Linked DNA regions of Homo sapiens: region 1 is linked to region 2. Evidence: fine-mapped QTL for protein levels in blood plasma. Region 2 holds a variant in brackets. A gene starts in the other region. All regions are shown on their reverse strands. Region 1 holds the start of CCL27 (C-C motif chemokine ligand 27). Region 2 overlaps LPA (lipoprotein(a)).

What was found. PIP is the chance, under the fine-mapping model, that this variant and not a neighbour inherited with it causes the effect. The UK Biobank Pharma Proteomics Project read protein levels with antibody pairs (Olink). The fine-mapping took linkage between variants from a reference panel, not from the people measured, so its PIPs are less certain.
Region 1: it holds the start of CCL27, and the variant in region 2 is fine-mapped to the plasma level of the CCL27 protein (UK Biobank, PIP 0.91).

The regions. Positions count from the first base shown.
Region 1 is chr9:34,662,200-34,670,489 of GRCh38, reverse strand. It overlaps CCL27 (C-C motif chemokine ligand 27), which reads left to right and starts at 7,833. Exons shown (of 3, transcript NM_006664.4): 1 at 7,833-7,926; 2 at 8,074-8,206. The coding sequence starts at 7,857. It overlaps LOC730098, which reads left to right and starts at 4,445. Exons shown (of 3, transcript NM_001320038.2): 1 at 4,445-4,877; 2 at 5,117-5,176; 3 at 5,300-6,327. The coding sequence starts at 4,831. The coding sequence ends at 5,456. It overlaps LOC124902146 (a long non-coding RNA gene), which reads left to right and starts at 1,997. Exons shown (of 2, transcript XR_007061467.1): 1 at 1,997-2,250; 2 at 2,705-3,103. It also overlaps a transcript of PHF24 not described here. RefSeq lists a silencer at 4,871-5,120.
Region 2 is chr6:160,587,375-160,595,706 of GRCh38, reverse strand. It overlaps LPA (lipoprotein(a)), which reads left to right. Exons shown (of 39, transcript NM_005577.4): 21 at 172-353; 22 at 1,590-1,749; 23 at 4,606-4,763; 24 at 5,995-6,154. Among named protein-coding and RNA genes, the nearest start is that of LPA, 73 kb to the left of the region's middle. The variant A/G (reference allele first, on the strand shown) is at 3,726.

The sequences.
Region 1 (8,290 bases), not on the chromosome of region 2:
GATGGGGAGCTATCCAGTGGGAAAGTATTCTGCTACCAACTCATGGACTGCAATTCACTTCTGACACTAGCCACGTAGAGTTAGCACCAGATTCCACAGGTTTAAGGGAAAGGTCCCCAACAAGACTGTCCCCAGTTTAGATACCAGCCACAAGTAGGGTCTCCAAGCCACCCACATTTCTGGCCAACTGGCTACAAGTCTGAGAAGTTCCCAAAACCCGTCAGTTTTGATAATTTGCTAGAGTGACTCACAGAACTCAGGAAAGTGCTGTGTTTAATTAGTTTATTAAGGGTATAAATCAGAAACAGCCAAATGAAAAGACACACAGGATGAAGTCTAGGAGGGTCTCAAATGCAGAGCTTCTCTCAGTGGTTTCTCCTTGTGGAGACATAAGGTGCATCAGCCTCCTGGGACATCAATGTGTTCATCAACCAGAAAGTTTTATGAGCTTTGGTGTCCAGAGTTTTTTTTGAGATTTCCTTACATCAGCATAATTGAATTATTGGCCACATACCTGAATTCAATCTCCAGCGCCCCCTTCCTCCCCAGAGGTCAGCCTGGCCCAAAGTCTCAACTCTCTAATCACATGGTTGGTCTTTACTGTGACCAACCTCTAACCTGAGCCATCTCATCTCTTAGCATAAACCCAGGTGTGTTCCAAGGGGCTCATGAGTAATAAAGACACTCCTATTACTTGGGAAATTCCAAAGGTTTAGTCTCCCTCTCAGGAGCCAGGGACAAAAGGCAGTCAAATTCTTTATTACACACCATTAGGGAAGGAAGTTTCTGAACGTAGAAAATGAAAGTTTTAGGGGGCCATAAATAGGAGACAGCCACAGCCTCCTACAGATCCACACACACTCATGGACCCTCAGTCTTCCAAGGACTCCCTCGCCCTCATGATCATGATCCCTCTCCTGCTTGCTCTCCCCATCCAACCTCACACACAGTCTCACAGACTCCACACAAGCAGAAGGACTCCTGCACACCCATGCACACCTGCTGCTCCCAGGGACTCTCCTCATTTGTCCATCTCTGCTCATCCTCCATGGCCTCTTGTGTGTGTGGCAACACTCCTCTTCTCAGCATATTGGTTTTCTTGCCATGAGTGAGTAAAATGGGGCAGGGGTTAAACGGTACGGAGGGGCATGGCAGGGATCAATGTGCAGGTCTCAGGGGTCTGTAAAGGAAGCTGAGTTCATGTTGTGAATCCAAAAGTATCTGAGATGGGTCTCAATCAATTTAGAAAGTTTATTTTGCCAAGGTTGAGCACACACTCATGACATGATACAGCCTCAGGAGGTTCTGACAACACATGCTAAAGGTGGTCGGTGCACAGCTTGGTTTTATACATTTTGGGGAGACATGAGACATCAATCAATACGTGTAAGGTGTACACTGGTTCAGTCTGGAAAGGCGGGACAACTCGAAGTGGGGGCTTCCAGGTCATAGGTAGATAAGAGACAAAAGGCTGCATTTTTTGGGGTCTTTGATCAGCCTTTCACTGAATACACAATTTACATGGAGTGGGGAGTAAAGGAATAGTCACACTGATGCCTTAGTCTGGCTCAGTGGATCTGCATTTTTGCATAAACAATAGGGCAGAAGCAGCAATCAGATACACATTTGTCTCAGGTGAGCAGAGGGATGACTTTGAGTTCTGTCTATTGTCCTGCACCTGTGAAGATAAGCTATCAGTTTACATTGCCAGGGTGAAATTCAGCACAACTGTTTTAAGGTAAAGATCTTGAGGCCCATAAGGAATTTCCCTGTGGACAAATTGTGAGGGAGGTATGTAGCTTTTTCTTTGTAGCTATCTCTTTTAGGAATAAAACAAGAGGCAGGTTTGCCTGACACAATTCCCAGCTTGACTTTCCCCTTGGTTGAATGATTTGGGGGTTCTGAGATTTATTCTCCTTTCACAATATCAACATCCAGGTTCTGAGACTGATATGCACCTGAGACTGTACATATGCCAAATGGGTGTGCCCTTGTGATGACTTTACGTCCTGTGTGACATGGGTATACCTGTGCATTGTGTGTATTCCTTTGCAGTCTATGTGTGTGCCTGTGTGGTGTGGGTATGCCTATGCCCTTTGTGTGCACCTGTGTGATGTAGATGTGCCTGTACCCCAGCTGTTCCTGTATGTATCAGTGCCTGGATGGGTCCTGGAGCCTCTGGCTGCTCTTCTCTTTATAGGCTCTGTCTCTCTAGCCTGGACTTCCCAGAGGAAGAAGAGAACAGTGCATGTGGGTGGAGTAGAGAGCAACACTAAAGCTCTGGACACAGATATCCCAAGTTCCAGTCAGGGCTATGGCCTTCCCATCTTAAGCCCTAAAGCTAATACTCACTCCCTAGCTCTGGGAGATACCAACAACTCTGGGGACTCTGCCTCTTAGCAAATCAACACCCAATTCCTGGGAACATTTTTGGTGCCTTCTGCTACCTCCTCTTCAGGGATGGCTGCAGGGCACTTTGTCCTATGAGTCGGGGTGGAGAATGTCCAGTCTCCTCCCCTCCCAATCACTTCCTCCATCATCCAGGTCTCCATTCACCATGTTACTTCCTTCACTTCTCCTTGCCCAATCCCTCCCACAAGGAAGCCCCTAAAACAGGTTCCCAGATCTGGTCCCCAGCATCTGCCCCTCACACCAGGGCCTTTCAGGAAGATGAGTTCTATGGCTCCATTCTCTCTGACTCCAGATTCACCACACTGAAAGGCAGCCTCTAGACCAGCCCTGGATGGATTGCACAAACTGGAGACTGCGGAAGACCTCTGCCAAGGAAAGCCTGGCCCTCCCCAGTCCTGTCTGCCCCCTCTGAGCCCTGTCTAAGATTACAGCCCATGGCCCTTCCTCTCCTTCCTTTCCCAGAGCAAGAGCCACAGCAGTTAGCCCATGACAGTGCCAGAGACAGCCCTGGCCTGGGGAACCAAGGACCAGAAGGGAAGACCAGGCCTCTAGTTCCTCGGCACCAGACCTGACCCAGCCAGGCCTGGAGTGTCAACATGAGTGTGAATGTGAGTGAAAGGGTGAACGTGGTGAAAGCATAGCTTCTGAACTCCCAGACTGCAGTGCTTCCAATAAAACCACCTAGCACCCATGGATCTCTCTGTCTGCTCTCTGTATGTGGCTCAGACAAGGGAAGACAAGAATGAGAGGGAGAAAGAGGGTGGGATGAGGGAGAGAAGAGGGGTATCCATTCCTCACATTTCAACCAGAGGAAACTTTCACCCCACTTATTTCTGGTCACTCCCTCCTATACAGTCAGCCCAGCCCCAAAACTGTCTTTCCCCTTACTCAAACCGACTACAGCTCAGTACTGGGCCTTGACTGGGATGTCAGAGCTCTGGGGCAGCTATTTCCAACCTCCCACACTGGGTTGATTGCCCTTTCTTGACACCTTCTACTTCTTCCAGCCAGCCTGCTCCATTTATAGTAAGAATCTCACTATTCTCTTTTGATCCTCCCAGCTCTACCCCTACCTCTCAGAGGGCAGACAAGGTGCCTGTCTTGTTTGTTGGTTGTTTTGTTTTGTTTTGTTTGAGACGGAGTCTCACTCTGTCACCCAGGCTGGAGTGCAGTGGTGCGATCTCAGCTCACAGCAACCTCCGCCTCCCAGTTTCAAGCAATTCTCTGCCTCAGCCTCCCGAGTAGCTGGGATTACAGGCGCCTGCCACCACGCCCGGCTAACTTTTGTATTTTTAGTAGAGACGGGGTTTCACCATCTTGGCCAGGCTGGTCTTGAACTCCTGAACTCGTGATCCACCCACCTCGGCCTCCCAAAGTGCTGGGATTAAAGGCGTGAGCCACCGTGCCCGGCCACCTGTCTTCTTTACTACTACATCCCCATGCCCAGCACAGTGCCTGACACACAGGTGGTCATTCAGCAAATATTTGTTGATTGAATGAATGTAGCAAAAAAAAAAAAAAAAAATCACAAGAAGATAGGTCTCAGACCAGAGAGGAAGGGCAATGACCCTCCGGCCATTCAGTGACTTAGCCGAGGCCACTCAACTAGGTATTTCCGTAGCCTGGCCTTTTCTAGACTGGACTCTATCTGAGGACCTATTCCTCCTCGGCCCAGGGTCATACAAGGGGAGGAAGGCAGGCAAGAGAGGCACTCGGCAGGGCAGAAGCCCAGGGAGGGGTAGAGGAGACGTGGGGATTAAGAAAACAGTACTGGACTTAGTCCCAACTCTCTTTTCTTGCTGCCTGCTGCGGAAGCCTCGGCCCCCCAAGGTGTAGCTCCAAAACCTGACCTGACACCTATAAAAGAGGGTCCTTTGCCCGCATCTTAATCAACCGACCCCGCCCCTGGCCTCACCCCGTAAGATGACGTTTCGACTCCGCCTCCTCTGGGAGACATGAACACCCCACCCCTTCCGGGGGACAGGCAAACCTAGTGCGCAACGGCATCCCTGTGACGTAATAGTAACGGTCCGTTTCCGGGGTGGAGCCAGGGAGGGCGGGAGTTTAGGCTGCGCTGACCCCTCTCAGCCCCCCCTCCAGGTGACCCCAGCCCCTGAAAATCCTCACCCAGGGCCCCAAATCTCCCAGCCCCATGACCGCCAAACCTCTCGCCCTGGCCCCCTAAATGCCCCAGGCCCCGGAGATGACCGGCCTCCTCACCCCTTAACTTCCAGTGCCTCCCAAATCTCCAAGCCCACCCTGTCCCGTGGTGGCAACTGAGGCTTCTCGGGGGCATCAGCCTCAGATTACCTGAGAACTGGGCAGCCTCGTCCTGAGAATGACGGAGAAGGGGACCTGGGGCTAGGGAATCCCTGATTCAATCATGCCGCTCCCCAGGAGACGTTCGGAGCCCAGGACATGTCGGGAATGAGGAGATACGAGGTGGCGCTGGAGGCGGAGGAGGAGTGAGTGGAGGCGGGTTCTGCGGAGGAGGAACCAGGCGGCTCCGGGGTGGGGGAGGGTGGAGTTCTGCGGGGGCGAGGGGTGGGCAGGGCGAGCCTCCCAGGGGCGTGGGCGCGAAGGGAGCCGCTTTTAGAGGCGGGGCGGAGCCTTCCTCGACGGCGAGGCACCGCGGGGCGGAGTCTGTAGGGTCAGCTCCTCCCCGCCCCGCCCCGCCCCGCCCGGCTCTGCCCTCTCTCTGCAGGATCTACTGGGGCTGTTTCTACTTTTTCCCCTGGCTTCGCATGTGGCGGAGGGAGCGGAGGTGAGGAGGCTGCGATACCGCGGACCCGCCCCGGGCATGGACGGGACTCAGTCTCTGAGGACCCATCGGGGGGAATCCGGTAGCTCCCGCCCCGCCTCATGCCAGTGTCGGGTCGCCCCACAGCTCGGCGCACCCCGGGGAGCAGAAGCTGGAGCCTCTGCGAGGCCTGATGAGCTGTCTGTCCAGCGGCCTGGGTCCTACTCCCCAGCGCTCGGGTCGTGGCTTCCCCCGCCGCAGCCCCACCGCCGCTGCCCAGCCAGCCAGTGCATTAAAGATTTAAACCGAAGCCCACCGTACTGACCTCCTGACTCTGCCGCCGCTGTCGCCATTCGAGCCGAGCGCCCCTCCCCACACGGGCTCTGTTCCGTACTGACAGGGCGTCCCTCCCTGGAAGGGTGCCCTTCCACGTCAAAGCCCCTCATCAGTGTCAGGCCTCCTGTTACTATCAATGGCTGTCTCCCCCAATCCCAACCCCCAAAAACCCATACTGTGAGTCGCCTATATGAAGAGAACTAAATAATCCTGCCTGTTACTCCCTTCCTCGGAGCGAGGACTTTGCCAGCTGTCTGAAGAATCTTCTCTGCTGGGAGTATATCTAAAACATTTTAAGCAGAGGTGTAGGATGCAGGCTGTAAATGGTAAGAGGGGGAGATTCCTAGAAGCTGCCTGCCACAGAGGAGCGACTTGGGTTGGCGACCTTTCCTACAGTTCATACCCCAACTTTTGGCTCCTCCAGTCTGATCCCAAGTTTAGAGATCCTTGGCATCAGCCTACCTAGAAGTTCTTGCTCCCTCCCTAGGAGAGTCCAAGGGCCACTGCTCTTTGCCGCCCCCTTCTGTCACCCAATCAGCCTGGGACCCACTAACTCCTCAAGTGGTGAGAATCAGGGACTGCTATGTGGGCCTGCCTTCAGTTAGGGACTGGACCCAGCACCAGAAAGGGCACCACAAGATTAAGTTAAAGAAAGAGATGGCCCAGTTTCTGGCTGGGGCCAAAGCTACAGCAGATTGTGGCTGGGGAGAAGACTTGGTCTTAAAGGGGAGAGATGGGTGCACACCCAAAAGCATTTGTTTTCTGCCTTCCGAAGACTTCTGGACCGACAAGCCCAGGGAAGACCAGAAAGTATGTAGCGCACAGCCAAGTGATGAAGAAGGTCTATGACAAGCCCGAGGAACCTGGGAGATTTCCTTGGGATTTCCTCAGTGGCTACACCCAACAAGCCTTGGGACACAAGAGAAAGGCCTAAGCCCTATCCCAAGAGAAAGCCTACTCCATAGAGAGTGGCTGACCCTACAGCAGACGACTGCAACAAGATAAGGGCTGGATTACTGTGTTATGACTTGGTTTATGTTTCAAATATAGAGCAGGACTTGCAGATTGAGATCCCTGGACCAGGAGTGGGAAATTCTTAAAGGAGCCAGGGGCACTGAACTTGGCAGCATACCCCCACCCTAGGCAGCTCCCAGCTTCCTGGAAAGGACTGGATAAAGATGAATAGGAGCTTTGCATTGCAGGGAGGGGGTAAAGAACGGAGTGACAGCTGGGTATGGGATTAGGAGAGAAGCGGCTATAGCTGGAGGGTGGGATGCAGGGGGTATAGCAGTTGGACATGAGGGTGTGACTGAACCCGGGTAGGGAGAGGGGATGTTCCTCCAGGCCCAGGAAGGAGGCTGGAATTTGAGTAAAACAAAGATGTAATTGAGTGCTTGAGTCCAATGTCTTCAACAAGTCAGGGACTGGATCTGGAGACCCTAGGCCCCTGCTGGCAAGAGGTTGGCATTCCTGGAACAGGACTAGACAAAAACAGGAAGGTAAGATTCACTGGGCCTTTTACCTGTTTTGACAACAGTAACCTAGCACCAAAGAGCTTTTATCTTCCCTCCTTATCTACCCCACCTTTCCTCCCTGTCTCATCATCCTGGGGAAAGCTGCCCCACCTCAGCATCTCCAAAACACCCTTAATATTACCATAAAGGGCCTTCCCCCAGCTTCTCTGAATGGGGCTGGCCTCAGCCAAGAACCCTCCTCAGCCAGAAGGGCCTGCTCTAGGGACCCATTCCCATCCATTTCTTCTGATAAGACAGGCAGGCCAAGCCAGGAAGTGGGGAGGAGAAGGTGAAGGCAAGTTGGTGCTTGCCTGCCCTCTGCTCCCACCCCACCCACAACTCCCCTGTCAGAATCTGTGTGTGCTAGTGTGAATTTGCTTGTGATTGGATGACTGTGAAAACACAATTGGGTGGGAGAGGGACTTTGAGTATAACCGGGGCTATATAATTTTGTCTACGGTTGTCTGATCATGAGTATGACTTTGTGAGGTTGACCAAGTGATTGAGGAGTGACTTTGAATGTGTGGCTATGCGTATTTGAGTGTGAATGTCTATCATTAGATGCTGCTGTGGATGCTTGACTGCCCTTACTCACTGTTCCATCAGTCCCTACATCACACACTAATCCTTCCCCCAGCTTCACTGCCCAGAGCTTAGGAGCACATGGGAAATGGCTATCCTAGATGAGGAAGGAGTCTGTGGCAACAGGCCGAGAATTAGGGCCCAGGAGTGTCACAGGTTACACAGTACATCTCCAACTGCCTCTGACTCACCTAGTGCCCCAGGTAAAAGGCACCCAGATAAAAGGTAGGGGAGGAGGAGAGAGAGAGAAGGAAGAGTCTAGGCTGAGCAACATGAAGGGGCCCCCAACCTTCTGCAGCCTCCTGCTGCTGTCATTGCTCCTGAGCCCAGACCCTACAGCAGGTGAGTACTTGGGGGTATAGAAAGCTGGGGGTCTGGGTGAATGGGATGAAGTTGAAAAGACCCAGGAAATCCAACCTAACCTCCAGCTGTCTGGCAGAGAGGTTCTTGGTCAGGATCCCTCTGAACACATGGCCCTGTTGCCCCTAGCATTCCTACTGCCACCCAGCACTGCCTGCTGTACTCAGCTCTACCGAAAGCCACTCTCAGACAAGCTACTGAGGAAGGTCATCCAGGTGGAACTGCAGGAGGCTGACGGGGACTGTCACCTCCAGGCTTTCGTGTGAGCTCCCACCCCTGATACCCCTGACTCTGACCTCAGTCCCAACCCCTAATGCTGATCCCAACCCCAGCCCTAACTGCTAAT
Region 2 (8,332 bases):
GATGTTCGCAGTTGTTTAGAAGTTGAGGACCATTTGTGCATATTATGGGACCTTTAGTGAAAATATTTCAAAGTCTCTTTTTACACTTTGTTACAGCAAAATGTAGAGGGCGCTAAGTGCCCTTGAATCTTCTCCCATCTCTGGTGACCTGTGTTGTTTTGAAATTTGCAGTGGCCTGACCAGGAACTACTGCAGGAATCCAGATGCTGAGATTCGCCCTTGGTGTTACACCATGGATCCCAGTGTCAGGTGGGAGTACTGCAACCTGACACAATGCCTGGTGACAGAATCAAGTGTCCTTGCAACTCTCACGGTGGTCCCAGATCCAAGCACAGAGGCTTCTTCTGAAGAAGGTAGGAAGTCTATGGCCAGACAACCACACCCTAGGACGTTGGGATGAAAAGAGTTGCAAAATCTTAGTGATATAGAAGCCTTCCATGCTCACACAATTCCAAGTAGAATGTGGACTCAGGGTCAGCCACTGGGAAGGAACACTCAGCGCCTTCTCTGGGAGAACCAGAGCTGTGATGTTTGGTACCCTGTGAAAGGGTGGTATCTATAGGAAGGGTGCAGACCCTCTAGGGCACTGGACTTACCACTCCCCTGGTTATTCAAAGGATCATTTTAGTGTCTTAGCCAGAAGAATATTCTAACATTTTGCCAAATTTGTGAAGATTTACCAAGCTCATGATAAGCCTTTCATGGTATTTCTTCAAGTAGTCAGTGTTCATTGCATCTTTGGCTTTGCGGTTTCGGAGGAATGCGGTTTTTGAGTCTGTCATCCTTGAGAAACCTAATATGACTTTTCTTAGTTCCATATACTTCTGGGTCCAGGTAGCAGTACATAGCCAACAAATGCTCCATCGTTCTGGCCTATCTCCATCTTAAGCCAGTCCTGCACAACTAGGCTTTGATGGGAGGGATCTCTCAGTGTTCTTGCCCCTCCTTCTCATGGAACATATATCTGTGTTGGTCTCTGAGAAGAAGAGTAGTGGATATCTACTTTGTTGCAATGCAGAATCCTGGGCCAAAGATACCAGCCATCCCTCCAAGGGAATAAAATTTTGGCCAGTAGCCCTCTCTGAGAGACAATTTGTCTTTGCCTACGAGTCCTAGATGCAGGACCGCTTCCTGCCCCATCTTCAAGAAGCTGAAGGCTTTGGCTTTGGAGGATCAGCAGTCTAGGGAAATGTGTGACGGTTTCATGTCTGTCCCCACTGACAGTCAATCACCACCTACAACCTGCACAGCCTGATGCATAGCAGTCTAGTTTCCTGCCTTATTCTCAGGAACACCCAGAAGATGTCTATATTAAAGAGCATGCACATGAGTGCAATTTTGACTGATAGGCACTCTGATCTTTCCTTTGGTGCCTGTGTTTTAAAGGAAATCTTTCTAAGAACTCGTTAAAGTTCTAGAATGCTATGAATCTTTGGGTTTTATTATTGGTATGTCCATCTGCCTGCTAGTACAGAACAGAGCATGGTAGTCTTTCTCAGAGACAATGATCCTGTTTCAGTCACAGATTTCTTCTGATGCTTCTGTGTTCTAGAAATTACTCAGCTTGATTTCTCCTCTTTGAATTTCAGCACCAACGGAGCAAAGCCCCGGGGTCCAGGATTGCTACCATGGTGATGGACAGAGTTATCGAGGCTCATTCTCTACCACTGTCACAGGAAGGACATGTCAGTCTTGGTCCTCTATGACACCACACTGGCATCAGAGGACAACAGAATATTATCCAAATGGGTACAACCTTGAGTTTTCTTCAAAGACAGACAGCAGCCCCCTTACATTTCTCTTGGAAGGGCCATGCTTCCAACTAACTTCTTATGACAAATTTATCTCAGATCTGGAATGTTGGGTAGAATGTCTCAGGCTTCTTTCTTCAGGCACAGTGTCTGAAAGGAGAGAAATGTCAGGCCAGCTCTCTTTTCTCATAGTTGACAGAAGCAGGAGGATATTTGAAGGTGGTGAGTTCTCATGAATAGAAAGCTCAGGACACATGGCCACGTGCTTAGAAATAGCACCATTCCACAATGCCCACTAAAGACCAATGCAATAGTTCAACCAGGGATTTCTGTCATTCTAATCTCCAAGTCCTGAAGTGAAGGTTGTATTAGCCATGTTCATCTTGGGCAACAAATAAAGGATATCTATGTTGACATCCAGATCTTCCAATCACTTTCTCCTCTAACCTGTACCTGGGTTCTGAGAACAAGGTATCTGAAGAGCTATGTGTTGCCAGCACATGAGGGGCAAAAGTAGGAAGGCAGCTGAGAGTCAGGAAGTATAAAGATTCTGAAGAGTTACACATGCAGGAAGATGGACAGAAACCCAGTTCAGACCACGTCAGCGTTTCTGCCATGAAGGACTATCAAATACATAGGAAAAGTGTTTTCATAGGTTGGACAACAGACATGACAGGCCTGAGAAAATTCAGAAAGGGAATCAAAGGAGATCAACCTTATCATGTCCCTGGCATCCTTCCTTGAGACCCTTGAAGGGCAAGCAGATGGAGCCCAGCTGACCACAGCAGTCTTGCTTAACTGAGGAGAGAGACTGGAGTTTGTGATGCCTCAGGCATCTGACGTATTCTAGGCTGGCTAAGAATGAGAGGGGATTTGTGGAGGAAAGGAGCTCCAAGAATACACACCGAAGTCTTCTCAAGGCTTTGGCTAAATACAAAGCTGCGTATGCACAAGGAGAGTTTTCACAAAGAAAGAACAATAAAGAAAAGCTACTGGGGAAAGAACAACTGCAAGGGAACAGTGAGCTCAATGGAGATGCTAGAGCTCACATAGCACTGGGGGATATTTGAGTTCTGACCACTCAGAGGAGAGACACCTCACTGAACATCTTGGGCATTCAGTAGAGGTCAAAGAAAGCCATAATTTGGGAGTAGGATCTTCGGATTCCTAGAAATAAGGTGACTCCAGAAACACTCCAGCAACCCTTCTTCCAAGCCAGTCTAAAAGGATCCAAATGATTTCCAAGTAAATTAACTGCCTTCCAGAAAAAAGTAAACTCAACCCTCCTTAGAGGTAAGGAACGAATACAAGTTTCTCAGTTATATGACATCCCCAGAGTGCAACTTGCATTTAAAAATTTACTAGACACAAAAGAAGTTTTCACTGTGATCCATAACTGGGAGAAAAATCACTCAACACAAATAGGCCCAGAAATAATAGAAATTATGGCATTGGCAAGAACATTTAAAATGCACCTCTGAGAACTGTGTTTCAGGAAAATGTCAGCAAAAGCTGACCATGAGAGAAATGAATGCATAATATCAGAAAAGAAAAGAATTGAAGAGCCAAATGGAAATTTAAAAACTGAGAAAAGTTATATCTGTAATGAGGAATTCACTGGATGGCCTTATAACCAGTTTAGATATTATGGTAGGAAAAGGTGAACGAGAAAATGATTCAATTAAAGCTAGACAAACCACAAGACAGACAGACAGACACAAATACACATACACACAATGACTGAACCAATTAATCAACAGAGCCTCAAGGACATCTAGGAAAACATCCACACATTTAATATATGTGTTAGGCAAGTCACAGAAAGAGAGGAAAAAGATAATGTGACAGAAGTTATACTTGAAGCCATGACGGCTGACAAATTTCCAAACATACAGAAAATGAGAAATTCATAGTCATGAAGCTCAATGACTCAGGTATAGATTTTTAAAGAGCAAAACTCTGATTTACTGGGGT[A/G]CATCATAGTTAAATTGTCTGATTTCAAAGCTAAGAAGAAAAAAAGGGGGTTCCTATGAACAAACATTTTGACAGTTGATCTAAGACCACAGCTTAAATATCTAGGCAAGGAAAAGCAAATAAGACACAAGGAAAGGGGATGGATGGAAATAGTCCAAACCAATGACATTCAGTGAACAAGAAAATAGACCAACAAAGGAGTAAATCCATGAAACAGAAAGTTGGTTCTTTGAAAAGATTCATGTGATTGACCACAGTCTGGCTGAACAGATGACAGACCAAGGAGGGAGTACAACCATCACCATTTGAAGTAACAGGGGAGAGGAGCCATTGCTATACCATACTCCAGGTCTGAAAGCTGACAAGAAGATATCAAGAAAAACTGTATGTGAATAAATTCATGAATGTAGATCATGTGGATCAATTCCTTAGGTAAACAACAAATCAGCAAACCAGATACTGAATAGATTGGGTACTCCTATAGAAAGACATACAGATAGCCAGACAGAGAAACATTTGTACGTGCATAAAACAATCTACAAGACTCACTTCAAAATCTCTCAGTTAATCCAAAGTAACATATTTGGCAGAAGGTGGAAGGAGGGTATTCTGATCCTTTCTTGTACACATTGATGTTTTCTCTCGGTTTTCTTATGGAGTATAGACGAGTTTGGATGTGTTACAATAAGAATGATAATCTGTCTTTGAAATGTTCACAGTTGTTTAGAAGTTGAGGACGATTTGTGATTGTTACAGGACCTTTAGTGAGAATATTTCAAAGTCACTTTTTACCACTTTGTTACAACAAAATGTAGAGGATGTCTGGTGCCCTTGTATCTTCTCCCATCTCTGGTGAACTGTATTGTTTTGTAATTTGCAGTGGCCTGACCAGGAACTACTGCAGGAATCCAGATGCTGAGATTAGTCCTTGGTGTTATACCATGGATCCCAATGTCAGATGGGAGTACTGCAACCTGACACAATGTCCAGTGACAGAATCAAGTGTCCTTGCGACGTCCACGGCTGTTTCTGAACAAGGTAAGAAGTCTCTGGCCAGACAACCACACCCTTGGACGTTGGGATAAAAAGAGTTGCAAAATCTTAGTGATACAGAAGCCTTCCATGCTGCACGGGAATCTGAATGTGGACTCAGGGTCAGCCAATGGGAAGGAAGCCTCAGCGCCTTCTCTGGGGGAACCAGGGCTGAGATTTTTGGCACCCCGTGACAGGGTGGTGTCTTTAGGAAGCGTGCAGACCTTCTAGGGCACTGGATTTACCACTCCCCTGGTTATTCAATAGATTATTTCAGTGTCCTAGTGAAAATGGATATTCTAACATCCTGCCAAATTTGTGATGATTTACCAAGCTCATCATGAGCCTTTCCTGGTATTTCTTCAAGTAGACAGTACTCATTGCAAACTTCAGCTTTACAGTTTCAGAGGAATGTGGTTTTTGAGTCTGTCATCCTTGAGAAACCTGATATGACTTTACTTAGTTCCATATCCTCCTGGGTCTAGGTAACAGTACATAGCCAGCAAATGCTCTATCTCCCTGTCTACCTTAATCTTAGGCAGGTGCTGCACACCTAGGCTTTGATGGAAGGGATTTCTTAGTGTTCTTGCCCCTCCTTCTCATGGAACACGTATCTGTGTTGCTGTTTGTGAAGAAGAGTAGTGGATGTCTACTTTGTTGCAATGCAGGATCCTGGGCCCAAGATTTCCCGCCGTCCCTCCAAGGGAATAAAATTTTGGCCAGTACCCCTCTCTGAGAGACAATGTGTCTTTGCCTGGAAGTCCTAGATGGAGGACCACTTCCTGCCCCATCTTCCAGAAACTTAAGGCTTTGGCTTTGGAGGATCAGTGCTCTGGAGAAATGTGTGACGGTTTCATGTCTGCCCCCACTGACAACCACCACCTACAGCCTGCACCGCCTGATGCATGGCACTCTGGTCTCCTGCCTTGTTCTCAGGAACACCCAAAAGAGATCTTTGCCAAAGAACAGGCACATGAGTGCAATTTTGACTGATAGGCACTCTGATCTGTCCTTTGGTGCCCAGGTTTTAAAGAAAATCTTTCTAAAAACTCATTGAAGTTCCAGAATGCTATGAATCTTTGAGCTTTGTTATTGGCATGTCCATCTGCCTACTAATGTAGAACAGAGCATGGTCGTCATTTTCAGAGATGATGTCCTGTTTCTATCATGGATTTTTTTTCTCATGCTTCTGTGTTCTGGAAATTACTCAGTTTGTTTTCTCCTCTTTGAATTTCAGCACCAACGGAGCAAAGCCCCACAGTCCAGGACTGCTACCATGGTGATGGACAGAGTTATCGAGGCTCATTCTCCACCACTGTTACAGGAAGGACATGTCAGTCTTGGTCCTCTATGACACCACACTGGCATCAGAGAACCACAGAATACTACCCAAATGGGTATGTCTTTGAGTTTTCTCCCAAGAGAAACAGCCACCCACTTAAATTTCTCCTGGAAGAGCCATGCTTCCAGCTAACTTCTTATGACCCAATTTCTCTCAGACCCAGAATGTTGGACAGAATGTCTCAGGCTTCTTGCTTTGGGCACAGGGTCTGAGAGGAGAGAAATGTCAGGCCAGCTCTCTTTTCTCATAGTTGATAGAAGTAGGAGGATACTTGGAGGTGGTGAGGTCTCATGAATAGAAAGCTCAGAAGAACATATGACCATGTGCTTAGAAATAGCACCATTCCACAATGCCCACTAAAGACCAGTGAAATAGTTCAACCAGGGAATTCTGTCATTCTAATCTCCAAGCCCTGGAGTGAAGGTTGTGTTTGCCATGTTTGTCTTGGGTAACAAGTGAAGGATATCTATATTGACTTCGAGATCTTCCGATCACTTTCTCCTCTAACCTGTATAAACACATTGGGTTCTGAGAACAAGGTGTCTGAAAAGCTATGTGTTGCCAGCCCATGAGGGGCAAAAGGAGGAAGGCAGCTGAGAGTCAGGAAGTATAGAGATGCTGAAGAGTTACACATTCAGGAAGATGGACAGAAACCCATGTCTGGCTATGCCAGCCTTTCTGCCATGAAGGACTATCAAATACATGAGAAAACAGTTTTCACAGGTTGGACAACAGATATGGTAGGCTTGAGAGAACTGAGAAAGGGAATCAAAGGAGATCAACTTCATCATTAACCTGTCTTCCTTCCTGGACACAGTGTTGGATTGAAGGACAAGCAGATGGAGCCCAGCTGACCACAGCAGTCTTGCTTAACTGAGGAGAGAGACTGGAGTCTGCGATGCCTCAGGCAGCTGATGTGTTCTAGGCTGGCTAAGAATGAGAAGGGATTTGTGGAAGAAAGGAGCTCCAGGAATACACACAGAAGTCTCCTCAAGGCTTTGGCTAAATACAAAGCTGCGTATGCACAGGGAGAGTTTTCATAAAGAAAGAACAACAAAGAAAAGCTACTTGGGAAAGAACAACTGCAGGGGAACAGTAAGCTCAATGGAGATGCCAGAGCTCACATAGCACTGGGGGATATTTGAATTCTGACCACTCAGAGGAGAAACACCTCACTACATTTTGGGCATTCAGTAGAGACCAAAGAAAGCTGTATTTTGGGATTGGGATCATCTTATTCCTAGAATCAAGGTGACTCCAGAAAAACTCCAACAACCCTTCTTCCAAGCCAGTCTAAAAGGATCCAAATGATCTCCAAGTAAATTAACTGCATTCCACAAGAAAAAAAAAACTCAACCCCCCTTAGAGGCAAGGGACAAATACAAGTTGCTCAGTTATATGGCATTCCTATTGCGTTACTTCTATTTAAAAATTTAATAGAGACACAAGAAGCTTTCACTGTGATACATAACTGGGAGAAAAAATCACTCAACACAAACAGGCCCAGAAATTATAGAATTGATGACATTGGTGAGAACATTTAAAATGCACCTCTGAGAACTGTGTTTCAGGAAAATGTCAGCAAAAGCTGACCATGAGAGAAACAAAAGCAGAATAGCAAGAGAAAAGAAAAGAACCGGAGAGCCAAATGAAAATTAAAGAACTGAGAAAAGGTACATCTCTAATGAAGAACTCACTGGATGGCCTTATCATCACTTTAGACATTACGGTAGGAAAGGTGACCTAGAAAATAATTCAATAGGAGCTACACAAATCACAGGACAGACAGACAGACCAACAGACAGAAACACACACACACACACACACACACACACACACACACACACACACACACAAAGACTGAACCTATTAATCAACAGAGCCTCAAGGGCATCTAGGAAAAATCCACACATTTAATATATGTGTTAGGCAAGTCACAGAAGGAGAAGAAAAAGATATCATGACAGACATTATACTTGAAGCGATGATGGCTCGCAACACGCCAAATATACAGAAAACAAGAAACTCATAGTCAAGAAGCTAAATGACTCAGGTATAGAATTTTAAAGAGCAAAACTCTATGATTTACTGGGATATATCATAGTTAAGTTGCCTCAATTCAAAGCTAAAAAGAAAAAAAGGGGGTTCCTATGAACAACAGCTTTGACAGCTGTTGATCTAAGACCACAGCTTAAATATCTAGGCAAGGAAAAGCAAATAAGGCACAAGGAAA